2 separate regions of the Homo sapiens genome follow, and region 1 is linked to region 2. Evidence: fine-mapped expression QTL. A gene starts in region 2. The other region holds a variant in brackets. All regions are shown on one strand. Distances are between the middles of the regions.

What was found.
Region 1: its variant is fine-mapped to the expression of OXGR1 in lung (TOPMed, PIP above 0.99).

What each region holds. Positions count from the first base shown.
Region 1 is chr13:97,019,731-97,022,649 of GRCh38, reverse strand. No RefSeq gene overlaps it. Among named protein-coding and RNA genes, the nearest start is that of OXGR1, 27 kb to the right of the region's middle. The variant A/G (reference allele first, on the strand shown) is at 1,299.
Region 2 is chr13:96,993,152-96,996,070 of GRCh38, reverse strand. It overlaps OXGR1 (oxoglutarate receptor 1), which reads left to right and starts at 1,595. Exons shown (of 4, transcript NM_001346194.2): 1 at 1,595-1,773.

The DNA of each region.
Region 1 (2,919 bases), 27 kb before region 2:
TGTTTGACAGTTACCTGGAAATCTGATTCATCTTCCAGACATCTGACTGTGCTTTTATTCTGGTATTAGATATGTCTTTTTGACTTTAGTTTTGATGTCTTAGATTTCAAATCCACAAGGATTATAAAAACCATGTACCTGCTAGAACAAGGGGTAAAAAGCTTGAGTAAGACAAATCTCAAATTGTTGAGAGCAATATAGCAAGTCATTTATATTAATGGCTTAGCATCTATATGTAGTATATTGTTACAATTTGGCTATGCTAATAGCTGTAACAATATATTACATACGATATAAGAATATCAGTCTTGGATGAGATGATTTATTCCCTTTAGAAGTTTTTCTTCTCTGGGCTGGGTGCAGTGGCCCACACATGTAAATCCTAGCACTTCGGGAGGCCGAGGTGGGCAGATACCTGAGGTCGGGAGTTCGAGACCAGCCTGGACAACAAAAAACCCTGTCTCTACTAAAACTACAAAATTTAGCCGGGTGCGTTGGTGTGTGCCTGTAATCCCAGCTACTCGGGAGGCTAAGGCAGGAGAATCACTTGAACCCAGGAGGTGGAGGTTGCGGTGAGCCACTGCCCTCCAGCCTGTGGCAACAGAGCAAGCAAAACACACATCTGCAGTACCGCTACTAAGGGAAGATTCATGTTCAACCCTACCGTGGATTGGTTTTTTTCACAGACTGAACCCTTCATTCCTTACCTCCACTCTGAATCTCTGAATTGAGTGACACATGTACGTAAACTTCACCTGGAAAGCAGATAACTTAGTTTTGATGGTATACGAAAACTCCATTCGTGTATAGCTCTGCCTCTCTTTATGTTATTATTGTCACAGATTACGTCTTTATACATTGTGTCCCCATCAACACAGACATAGTATGTACAGCTGTCTTTTAAATCAGATAGGCAAAAAAGAATAACAAACAAAAATTCTGTGTTTATACTATCTTTTGTATTTACCTATGTAAATACATGAGTATTAACTGGCTAGTTTTATTTCCACTTGAATCAGAATAATAGGTCTGATAATTCTAAATGATACGATTGATGTTTACCTTAACCTTATCAGTGTTCCTTTTTCTCCATTGTATATATGTGAATAATTCACTGATAAGCAGTGAATGTCCTGTATTAAAGAGCCGTTCATTGACTCGTGCTACAAGCACCCATTGAGCACTGGACATTGGACTCTGTGAAGCAAGTGATAAACTGTAGACTGCCATCAGAGAATTAACCTTGGAGGGGAGGAAGCTGACATGCATCACCAGGTAATTTTATGATAATTTTATAA[A/G]TGCAACATTTACGACTATGTACCACTCACCATGGGAACACATCAGATCCAGCCCTGAGTAATCAGGAAGGCTTCCAAGAGAGGGGCCAGAAAAGGAAGGAAAGTGTAAAGGAAGATAAAATTGAAAAGATCAGCAGTAATTTTAAAAGATCATCTTGTCCACAGTGTGAAAACTGGTGTCTACAAAGGAAAATGTAGAAAAGGTAAAAAGCCAGGTGGGAGGTTATTAGCATTCTGTTCATGATGGGGGAGAACCAGGGTAGTGGTAGAGAAGTAAGCAAATTCTTGAGTCATGCAAAAGTGAGAAGTGATCGAATGTAGTGATTGTCTGGAGGTGGAAGGTAGGAGGTGGATAAAAAAGGAATGCCTGTTAGATGTCTGTCTTGGGCAAGACAAGAGATGCATATCTTTATTTAGAGAAATAATGCAGAAGAAGGAGCAAGCTGAGAAGTTGAGAGTTGGGGGAAGGGGGATGCTAGACAGGAGGTGACTTTGCCTGGGAAAGAACCAGGCAGAGCTATCCAGTGGGCTGTCATTCAGTTGCCTTTTTTTGCATTTAAAAGATACGTATTGATCAATTTCTATGTGCCAGACACACTACTAGGTGCTGAGAACACAATGCGCAGCAACATAGCCATTGTTCTTTCCCTTAGGGAATCTGATGGCAAAGGACAATAACATCTAAAAATTTTTTTCAAAAGACAAACATAGTCATTATAATAAAGAACATAAGTGAAATTACCATGTTAAATCCCAGGAGCTTTGGGTGCTCATGGGAGGTGTGCTGTAACATATTGAGTGTTCAGAAAAGGCTTTCTAGAGAAAGAAATGTGTAAATTTAAACCTAAATAACATGTAGGACCTAGGAAGAATGTGTGATGGCATAGACAGGGGACCAGAGGAGCAGAAAGGAAGCCAGACGATGGACATCTTTCAGACAGGAAAGTACTACAGCCTGGAGATGCAAAAGATTAGATGGAATTCTCTTGTAATGGGCAGAAAATTAACATCACTGGAATACAGATTGTGAGTAGGCAAGAGACAAGAGATAACATTTAATAAAGTAATTAGGGGGTCAGGAAAGGCACAAAGCGTCTTATAAACCAGACTAAGAACTTGTGCTTTACTTGAAATAGGGTCACCAACCACTCTAGTTTTCCTGGGTCTGAGAACTTTCCCAAGACACAGGATTTTCAGTGCCAAACTGAAATAGTCCTGGACTATTCAGAACAACTGGTCACCCTAGAGAGCCATTTGATGGTTTTATGTAGAGGTTTTCATGTATAATGAGGTTGTAGATTGGGGAGACCACTGTGGCTATGATATGGAGAAAGAAGGAGACTGGTGAAGATGAAATATGATGATGGCCAAGCTGGGGCAGGGGGAGGTTCAGTAGAGACAGAGAAAAACTGGGTGGGTTTGTTAAATTTTAAGAGATGTTATAATTAAACAGATGTGTAACAATTTAATGAATGAATGGGTTTAATGTGTGAGAAAGGCATGCGGGTGGTGGTGGTGCCATTTCCTAATTCCAGAGGGAGAGAAGTGGCTTTATATGATAATATGAAAAGTTCTATTTCAGACATGTTGAGTTTGTAAGGTTGTCAGATAAAATAATAGG
Region 2 (2,919 bases):
TCAGGGTTCCTCCATGTTGCAGTATGTGTCAGAATTTCCTTCATTTTTAAAACTGAATAATGTTCCATGGAATGTATACATCACATTTTCTTCATCCATTGATAGGCACTTGGGCTGCATCCACATTTTGGCTATTGTGAATAATGCTGCTATGAACATGGGTGTGCAAGTATCCGTTTGAGTCTCAGCTTTCAATTCTTTGGGGTATATTCCCAGAAGCAGAATTGCTGGCTTGTGTCATAATTCTATTTTTAATTTTTAGAGGAACCATTATACTTTTTTTTTTCCATAGCACCTGCACAATTTTAACTTTACAGGACTGGATATTTTTAAATGTCCTTTCCATGTCTAGAGTTCTAGGACCCAGTACTTGTTTTTCAAATAACCTCTTTAAGTCATTTCCTCGTTAGCTGGAAATCCTGCTCACCATGGAAAAACACTGGGATGTCTTTTACTTCAGAAAGCCTTCATTTGGGTTTAGTCCCCTCCCAGCCCCTTATTTACAAGTGGCAAGCCCTAATCATGTTTTTAATTTATTTCTTGTTTTCCTATAAGACATCAGCTCCTGGAAGCAAAGATTATGTATTATTCTTCAATATCTCCACGGTGCTTGACACAGAATAATCAAACAGCAAATGTCTGATCAATGCATAGGTGGGAACAAAACAGGGTCAACTATTTCCAGATGAAGAATTGAAAAAATGATTAAACATAGTAAAATTAGAGAACATTTTTTCTCCTAATGCAAAATATTTTCCTGGAGAGGCTGGAATTCAAATAATCAAAATGATAAGCATGATAATAAAAATGCCTAACTAGGGCTATCCCAACCATCAGCCAGGGCGGAATCTTTCCACCTGGGCCCTGGTGGGACACCTAACCTAACATTCTTGCTCCTGCTGGCTGGCATTCCCAGAGGATGGGCTATACATGGTGTTTGATGCCCATCAACATGGAAGTGCAGAAGAGACATTCAATGCCCGTCCATGGAAGAGCGAAGAGGGGCATTCTCCAAGCACCCCCATTCGCTAATACAGTGAACTCTTTGATGCTGGAAGAGATCTTGAAGTTCAACGGTTCGGGAGGCGCTAGTATACTGGACGATGTGGCTGAGGTTCAGAGAAGAGAAAAGGCGAATCCTAAGTTATGTAGCAAGAAGGCAACCTACTCCCTAGATCTGGAGATACAGACAAACGCTCTTTGCAGGGATAGAAACTATTTTTAAGCCACCTTGCTAAGCGCTGGAGGGCAGGGTTGTAATTGGATACAGGGAAATGACAACGCTTCAGTAAGTCGCCTCCATCCCACGCTAAATAAGAGGCACTGGACGCCTGGGCGACAGAGCGAGACTCCTTCTCAAAAGAAAAAAAAAAAAAAGAGGCACTGGGCTGTAGGAGAGTGGTGAAATTTCTGGACCAAGACAAGGCGGCCACAACCCTCCTGGGGCAACAACCCTCCCGCCGGGCTGGTTTTTTGGAACCTCTGCAAACACTTTCTCCTGGGTCAGTTTCCCGCCAAACCGGGATGGAGGATGTCCAGAGGTCCCGGGAGTGGAAGCCGCTGTCCCTGTGTCTACTGGGAAGTGGGCGAGGCGGGATGCTGCTGGCCAGGCTGCTCGGGGCGAGGACCCGAGAACACGCACTTGCTCGCTGGGCCTCGGAGGGGTGGGAGGGGCGGGGCGGTGCGCAGCCTCCCCGGGACAGGTCTGCGGTCCGGGACCAACTAGGCTGCACAGGCACGCTGGGCGCATGTCCGCCTCGCCGGGGCTGCCAGGTGAGCCGCGCGTGATCGGGGAGCGGGGCCCACCGGCCGGAGGGAGCGGGTATAGGGGACCCTGCCCTGACCCGGAGGGAGACGGGAGGTGCCCGAGGAGCAGGGGAAAGAGCACCCCCGCACGTCCCTGCAGCAGGCAGGGTCGGACGGAGCAGCGCCCCCTTCTTCTCTGGAGGCAGCAGGAGCACCCCAGATCCTGTGGCGGGAGGCGAAGTTTCATTTTAGGGAACAAAAAGCCCAGGGCGAGAAGACATTTGACTTGGAGAGAACTGGGGGAGTTAGGGATCTCTGATTTCATCTCACACTTTTTTTCACACCCAAGTGAGGGGTCTGGGAGGTGGGCAGGGAGAGTGCTTAGGAGACAAACAGAGTTAATCCCTCACCCCATTGATCACCGCCCTGCTGAATGTTCTCAAAGCTCACCCTGCATCGTGGTGGACTGTGTGGTGTTGGAAACGACCAAAGACTCTGCCCCACCCCCACCCCCAACAAGCGAGGAAAATGTTTCCCCTGAAATGTCTTTCTTCTCTGTCTTGTTTTTTGTTTCGTTGCTATGGATTCGTGAACTAGCTTGTAATGGTCTCTAAACCTCTAACTTGTATGTATAATATTTGCGTGTCCATGCATGCATTTTTCTGAAGCGAGCTCTCAGAAGTTGTATTTGTTTCTCCCGAAGAATAAATAGGCAAAACCATATCTTTGGGCTGCATCAACATGACCTCTTAATAGTCTTCAGGGAAACTGAGTTGCAGATTCTTATTTAACGAATTGGGGATTGGCCGGGTGTGTGGCTCACGTCTGTAATCCCAGCACTTTGGGAGGCTGAGGCAGGTGGATCACCTGAGGTCAGTAGTTCGAGACCAGCCTGGCCAACAGGCTGGTGAAACCCTGTCTCTATACAAATACAAAAAATTAGCCAGACGTGGTGGAACGGGCCTGTAATCCCAGCCACTCCGAGGCTGAGGCAGGAGGATCCCTTGAACCCAGGAGGTGGAGGTTGAAGTGCGCCAAGATCATGGCCACTGCACTCCAGTCTGGGCGACAGAGCAAGATTTCGTCTCCAAAACAACAACAACAATAATAACACAAACAAACAAAAAACAATAAAGTGGGGATTGAGGGAAGAGCCTTGAGGCTCCCAGAAGG